Homo sapiens: one gene and its partner. The gene in region 1 interacts genetically with each later gene. Each region holds a gene or a part of one and is shown on either strand. Other genes may lie near its edges. The genes, in order: ECHDC2 and NF1.

Region 1 (4,364 bases):
ATATACCAATAGATTTTGAAGATTGTTTCATATCAATGCATAAACAGTTTCCTGTGTTTTGTTATAGCTGCATAGTATTCAGATTATTGATGTACCTTTTTTTTTTTTTTAAGTAGAGATAGGGGCTTGCTATATTTCCCAGGCTGGTTTCAAACTCCTGGCTTCCAGGGACCTACCTGCCTTGGCCTTCCAAAGTGTTGGAATAATAGGGTGAGCCACCACACACAGCCCCATAATTTATTTAACCAACCCTCTATTGATGGATATTGAGACTGTGATATAGTTTGGGTGTTGGATCCCTCCAAATCTCACGTTGAAATATGATTCCCAATGTTGGAGGTGGGCCCTGTTGGGAGGTGACTGGATCATGGGGACAGATCCCTTGTGAATGGTTTAGCACCATCCCCTTGGCGATAAACTGGGACCTCCCCACCTAATTTTCTTGTTCCTATTCTCGCCATGTGACATGCTGGATCCCTGTCACCTTCAGCCATGATTGTAAGCTTCCTGAGGCCTCACCAGAAGCACATGACAGCACCATGTGCTTCCAGTCTTTTGCTATTATAAACAATGCTGCAATGTACAGCCATGAACACGTGTCATTTCACAGCTGTGTGGATTTATCTGTAGGTTAAATTTCTAAAATTGGAATTTCTGGGGCAATGAGCTTGTGCATTTATAATTTTGATATAAATTACCAGTTGCTTTTCATTTAAAGACATTCACATCAGCAATGTGAGAGTGCTTTGTATATACTGTGTTTAAGAGAATAATTTTTTTTTTTGGGACGCAGTTTCGCTCATTGCCCAGCCTGGAGTGCAGTGGCGCGATCTCAGCTCACTGAACCTGTGCCTTCCGAGTTCAAGTGATTCTCCTGCCTCAGCCTCCCAAGTAGCTGGGATTACAGGCGCCCGCCACCACGCCCAGCTAATTTTTTTGAATGTTTAACAGAGACAGGGTTTCGTCATGGTGAAACCCTGCCTCTACTAAAAATACAAAAAAAATTAGTTGGGCGTGGTGGCGCGTCCCTGTAATCCCAGCTACTTGGGAGGTTGAGGCAGGAGAATCGCTTGAACCCGGAGGCGGAGGTTACAGTGAGCCAAGATCAAGGCACAGCACTCCAACCTGGGCGACACAGCGAGACTCCGTCTCAAAAAAAAAAAAAAAAAAAAAAAGTGAGGCGCAAATGGGAGGTGAAGCAGTGAGGTTCGCAAGTGTAGACACGCTCAAGGGACTCATTAAATGTCATTTCATTTAAAAAATGAAATTGAGCATATGTGCAAGCAAGGTTCACACACCCCATTTAATCTTCACACCACCACGGGGTAGTCACTATTATCCCCATTTTACAGGATTAAAACACTGACGCTGGGAGGTTGACAGAGTTACACCAAATCACACAGAGGAGCTGGGCTTCCCCCGACCTCCTCCGCTCAAGTCTCCCTGTCCCCGGGAGGTGCGGAAGGAGGCAACAGACGCTTGGCCCATAGGTGGAGCAATTGGCGAAGGCTTCGCCCGACGCCGGAACTGCGAGCTCTCAGCGGGAGCCGAGACGGTGCAGGGCCGGAGAAGCACCTTCACTCCCAGCCTGCGCCCCGATGCTGCGCGTTCTGTGCCTCCTGCGCCCCTGGAGGCCCCTTCGGGCCCGCGGCTGCGCTTCCGACGGGGCGGCCGGGGGCTCAGAGATCCAAGTGCGCGCCCTGGCGGGTCCGGACCAAGGTAAATGTGCAGTTCCGGGGCGGCGCATGACGCGACTGGGACTAGGCCGGAGGCAGCGGGGGACCGGCAGGTGGGCCGCTCAGTGCGTTGAAGGATTCGATCCCCAGTCCCTCCCTCCCAGTTCTAGGCGCCCCAAACCGCTCCAGGCCTGAGAGGTGGGCGGCCGCCTTAGTGGCTCCAGACTCTAGCTGGGGGCGGGGGGCCTCTGGCAACCTCGGTCTCTTCAAAGGCCCTTTGGGGTCTTCCGACTGTGTGGAAGGGGGAGCGGGGTCCGCACGGGTAGGACTGGGCCCCGCGGCCCCCAGGCCAGGAGCGTTTAAGTGCGCGTTCCCCTCCCCCGCCAAGGGTCCTGGCCCGGTTCGGGGGCGGAGGCAGCGGAGCCAGTCCCAGTGCCCAGTGCGGCAGCGGGCAGAGTGAGGAGGGTGCCTCTCCAGCCGCGCGCCCGCCCTGGGCCGCTAGCGAACCTTTGCGTCCTTCTGGCTCCAGGGAAAAGTTCGCTGTTTCTCCGCCTTTTGGCCAAGATCAAGGATAGTATGGAGCGGGGACGAGGGGTGGGGGGCAAAGTTCGCGGGTCACTGGCAGAAAACGCCTCTGATCGCGTGTTGCGTTTTTGTTGTTGTTGTTGTTTGAACTTCTGGAGCATTCAGTGGTGCTGATAACGCTCCTCAGTCCTCTGCTGGTAACCATCAGGGCTAGGCGCTTCTCCTGCCTTGGGTCTCCTCCCCGCATCTCATCCCCTGTCTCCTGCATTTGATACACAGATGGCATTGTACTGTACATTTCGTTGTATTGCTTCTTTTTTTTTTTTAACAAAAGTTTATTCTTAAATGTACAACAGCTCCAAGACAACACTTAATTCCAGCCATAGGTGGCAAAAGATGTTATGGCAGGGAATAGAGAGGTTTAAATACTGATGAAATAAAGGGTCACCATCTCCTTAGGCACAGGGAACAGCTTACTTTTTGCCAGATTTCTTAATTCCACTTGTGGCCAAGGGCCCCTTCCCCGTGGCCTTCCATTTTAGCTCCTCGAGTTTCTTCTGCTCCTCTTTTTGTTTCTGCTTGAAAGCCTTATCTTCCTCGTCCATCTCCTTGGCCTGCATTCTTGGGCTGTTTCAGTGGCTTCTTGCCACCTTCGTGGCCGGACATGGCGCCTGCCGCCCCTTCCCCAGCAGTATTGCTTCCTTTTTACCGGCTTGACAACAAGTTTGAAGCGGGGCTTTGCCATAAAATCCAGTTCCTTGCTCCCTGCTGTTGCCCACTGTTCCCAAGTGTGCATCTACCACCTTCAGTGGACACGGACAGGCCACCTAGAGTCCCACTGCACCACTTGGTGAGAATTTCCTTGAACAGTTAATATTGCTGAACCTTATACCCCCAATCTCATGCTTAGTTCACTACCCAACTGGCAACAGCTCTTAAGACAGTCAAGATTATTCTCCCCACTTTACAGATTAAAAAACTGAGGCACAGAAGGTTAAGTTATTTGAACCAGGTCTGATTTCAAAGCCTGTGTTCTCAACCATTAGGTAATCACTGGCTCTTCTAGTAATTCAGTGACTCAAAATACAGACTTGTACATGTGTAAACACAAAATTATCATGGGTTAAAGACCTTTAGGCTCACTTGCAAATATCGGGAATCATTTTATCCAAAAAAGAATGACAAGGATCAGCAGATTAAGCCTCTGCCCCTGCCAGAGGGCTCAAAGGGCAGGAAAAGGCAGTGAGAGAAGGAGAGACAGAAACCAAGATGACAGTGCAGAGGAGGCATGGGGATGAGATCACACACGGAGCCCTCACAGGGAATGAGTTGGGGTCATTTGATGTTCATATTAGAAGCTGCAGGTTCTGCCTTCCACTGGGGCTGATGGCACAAGAGCACTGTTACATTTTACCTGCTGCCTTTGAGCTTGAGGTTGGGTGGTAAACCATTCTTCACTGTTCTTAGCGGCTTTATTTCTCATAGAGTCATGTGTTGCTTAACAACGGGGCTACATTCTGAGAAATGCATCATTAGGTGATTGTGGTCATTGTGGGAGCATCACAGAGTGCACCTACACAGTCCTAGATGGGGTAGCCTACTGCACACCAAGGCTACATGGTGTATAGCCTGTTGCTCCTAGAATACAAACCTGGACAGCATGGTACCGGGCTGAATACTGTAGGCAACTGTAACACAATGGTAAATGTGTATCTGAACATAGAAAAGGCACAGTAAAAATACAGTCTAAAAGATTTTTTAAATAGTACACCTGTACTGGGCAGTTACCATAAATGGAGCTTGCAGGACTGGAAGCTGCACTGGGTGAGTCAGCGAGTGAATGGTGAGTGAATGTGAAGGCCTAGGACAGCAGGGACTGGTTTGGCACCAGGGACTATTTTCATGAAAGACAGTTTTTCCATGGACTTGCGGGCGGACAGATGGTTTGGGGATGAAACTGTTCCACCTCAGATCATCAGGCATTAGATTCTCATAAGGAGCTCGCAACAACCTAGATTCCTCACATGCACAGTTCACAATAGGGTTCGCACTCCTATGAGATTCTAATGCCACCACTGATCTGATAGGAGGTGGAACTCAGGTGGTAATTCAAGCCATGGGGAGCTGCTGTAAATACAGATGAAGCTGCTCATCTCCTGTTGT
Region 2 (3,817 bases), on another chromosome or scaffold:
TGAGGTACCCCTGCTTTCCAGGCCTGCCCATAAACAGACAAGTACTTGCCTCAGACCTGCAGGTATCTATCACCTGGTCTTTTTTAGTCCTTTGTTCAATATCAGACACTGTTACCCTTCTGAGGATAGCTCTGTCCTGTCCACTGGGTCTGGGCTGTGTTCTTTCTCCACTGATTGGGGGAGGCAACCCACATAATCAAGTAAGTAAAATAGTAACACGGGGCAGCTGAGCCAGGGGAGGTGGTTTACATTGTATACACGTGTAGTGTCACAGAAGATTCTATAGCGGGAAAGCTGAAAAGTTGGAGAGAACTGCCCTCTGACTGGTCAATCTTGGGATGCCCTGACATTTCTGACTGGCTTCATTTTAAGAGAAGCCAGCTTATCCCAGAGAACAGACTCACCTGAGTTTGGCAGGCCCTAAAAAAGCATTTCACAAAAATATTTCACTTTTAGTGTGGAGAAGTTCTGGAAATGGAAAGATCTTTCTCACGGGGAGTAGGAGAGCCAAAAACATCCTTAAGGAAAATGGCCTTAATGTTTCAAAAGATTGGGAGGACTCGGGGGGAAGAAAACAGAGCTCGATACATCTGAAGAAATTAAATAACTCCTCATATCTTAGAGCAGATTGAATTTACATTTTACTTAAAAAAAGGGGGGTGGGGGAAGTACATACACAAGGAGGAAAATGGGGTGAGGAACAATAAAGATCTGAAATGGATTTCTATGATTTTCCCCTACAATGATCGATTTTGTCTGTTGGGCAGTATTTTTCCTGCTGGCGTACAACTGTTTACAGTATTAACAAGGTTGTAGACAAAGGAACTGCCAAAGTTTAGGCCCGGATGGAAAGGACAGTAAGTTATCATATACAATTTAAGTTTACAATACACAGCATTTTCTTTAAATGATGTAACGCAGTCGCAAAAAGAAGTTAACAATACTAACACGAGAATAATCAAATTTTTGTTGTTATCCATGTGCAGCAACTAACTGCTTTACAAAAAAGCAAAATAATACAATATATCATCACATATATTTACAGTATAGTAAATATACTTTTTTTGTCAAATTTTACACAAACTATTTACAGGTGAATATACTGCATTAAAAAAAATTGTGTGGCTGACACTAAGAATGAATTTTTGCCTAAATCCATTGCATAACATTGAGTAAGACATGCCTCATTATGCCTGGGAGTCGGGGAAGGATGTAGAAACAAAAACAAAAAACAAAAAACCCAAACAAAACTGAAAACCCCTAAAACCTACAAACCTGGGAGGGTTGCTGGCTGGCACTCTGTCTCCCCAACTAGGACACAGGATAGAAGCTGACTGTTTAGGATGTGTCCTGGGCACCTGGCTCAGTCATGAACAGGTGTTGAGTGAATGGAAGACAGAGCTGTAGCCACTTTGCCCCAAATCTACTGAACTGCATCTCCATCTGGGCAACTAAGGGCATGCCCCTCGGATGGGAGTACTGGCATAACAGGTAGATTATCCAGGACAAAAACATGACTGAGTTCCTGGTTTCCTCTTTAACAAGTCAGGGGAAACATCTACAAACCGAAACGAATTACTTATAATATTTTTAACAGAACTTATGTCAATTACGCAGAAATGGGCAACTTGGTCTAAACTTCAGAATTTCTTTTATAGATTACAAGTATGAAGACTAAAAAAGTGTTGCATTTCTCAAGGGACACATAGTGGTGAGAGGTTTATCTCATGTACATTTTAGTTACTTGGAAAGCTAGATTTTCCTCAAAAGTCAGAAGTTCTTTAAACAAGGTAAATTTTAAACCTTAGTTAAGTTTTCAAACTCCTAGGATGTACTTACTAGTCAAAGGTATTTTTGCATTTCAAAGGCGGCTGAATTTTGATTTGTGCCAATGCTGATCATTTCAGGCGGTATGAAATACTACACCCTTGGTAAACCCGTTTATGGAAATATCAGTATTTTTAACAGTAAACCTCTGGAAGTTTCTTTATTTTGATGGGAAGAGCAAAATAGCATAACACCCACTATCATATGCACCAAACCAACAAACAAAAACAAGAAAAACATCGAACTAAAGTTATCAAAGGCTTACACTGCCTGCTATTCCAGGGCCTAGAAACTGTGAAACTTACCCCAGAAACACTGGGTTGTGGGAGAGCCAAGACCATGGTGGCAGCTTGGCATCCTTGGCACTGGGTTACTGATCTATTTCTAAACACAGTTCTAATTTCAGCTTTTTTATATAGTCATAGTTGCTCTGTCATTATAAACATTTTCTTCTAATGCAGCCTCTACAATAGTTTAAAAACAAAAGTTTAGTAAATTGCACCTGTCTTCAGTATTTCCAACAATTCTATGGTAAACTCATTAATAATACTAAGGTTTTCTTTCCTCTTATTTTGGCAAATAATTCTTACTTTTCCCAGGACTGTAAACAAATTTAAAAAATTAAATTCTTGTTATTTCTGAGTATCAAAACCAATTTTATTTACATTAACATATTACATTGTTACTGTGTGGATAAATGTGAAATATATTATTAAAATCAGAACACTTAAATGTACCATTATTTATTGAATTAGCTGTGGAATTTAATTTACTGAAATCCTCTAATGAAACAGCACTACAGGAAACTCCCCTCTCCCCTAGGTTTATTTTTTCCCCCCTCAAAGCCATTATATCTTAACATATAAAGGGAACCTGGGAGTAGAGGGATTAATATCTTTTTGTAATAAATATGGTTTAGTTCTAAATTGGAACATCCAGATACCAATATGCTCACTGAAGTCAAATTATTTTGTAAACTGCAGGTACCACAAAGAAATTGGATCTGCATTACTATGAAAATTCCAATGCCATGATAATCCATACCACCAGTATAGCAGCAATTCTAACAGCCCCCCTACTGTCATACTAATGCAGGCTGACCAGTCTTTTCACAGTGATTAAATGCAATTCTAGCATATATAACCTACATGTTTTCTTAAAGAGGTTTCTGATTTTTTTGGAGAGGAGGAGGAAGATTAAAAGACATTCAAAATACATCTTATCAAAGAAATTTATAATATACACCATACTCTATTCTTGGAAATTATTTAACAAAATAAAAATATCAGCTACCCTAAATGTCACGTACCATTCCATTTTGCTATGGAGCTAATGCAAACATCTATGAAAATTACCTTCTGGGAACAATTTTCAACACTTTGTTCACTGATTACCCTGCTCAGAATTAGTTAGGAAAGAAGAGGGGGAGGGGAAAAAATATATATATATATATAATTACTATACTTAGTATAGTTTTGGTTTACAAAAAACAAAACACAAAAAAACCACCTTTAGCAAAATTAAAAATTAAAAGATAATCAACTGGAGAAAAAAATAAACTAGTTTGGATGACTGAGTTTGGATAAGGACTTAGAAGCCATAGTTTTAATTCAGTAATGTTAAGATATATGTGGTCGCACTTATTTTCCTGTAATTATTGCTAATACTCAAGTGTTAGTATTTCTTAAGAATCCACTATAAAATATGAAATTTCCCTGCCCTCCCCCCCAAGTACCTTGTCTGTGGCTTTATGGTGTCAAGTCACTGAGGCTTGACCTCTATGGTTCTTTCAGTTTTGTACGGTTAAAAAAAAAGTCCACAGCTAAAAGATTAAACATACTGGGGTTATAATACTATTTCTCTCATAAACTTGTATCTTGAAAAATGTATAAATAGGACTAACACTTTACTCTGTAGGATGAAGAAGGGAAAACCACAGAAGGCAGAGCTCTGTGCAAATGGCTTTCATCACTGGCCAGTAGTAGCAGTA

What was found.
Region 2: changes in ECHDC2 (region 1) and NF1 together harm fitness more than expected from each alone (negative genetic interaction), as found in Homo sapiens cells (one large-scale study listed by BioGRID).

What each region holds. Positions count from the first base shown.
Region 1 is NC_000001.11:52,918,908-52,923,271, reverse strand, and holds the start of ECHDC2 (enoyl-CoA hydratase domain-containing protein 2, mitochondrial), read left to right. Parts: upstream 1-1,531; 5' UTR 1,532-1,598; coding exon 1,599-1,719; exon of another isoform or gene 1,720-4,364.
Region 2 is NC_000017.11:31,374,477-31,378,293, reverse strand, and holds the end of NF1 (neurofibromin), read right to left. Parts: 3' UTR 619-3,817; downstream 1-618. UniProt on the Homo sapiens protein: Stimulates the GTPase activity of Ras. NF1 shows greater affinity for Ras GAP, but lower specific activity. May be a regulator of Ras activity.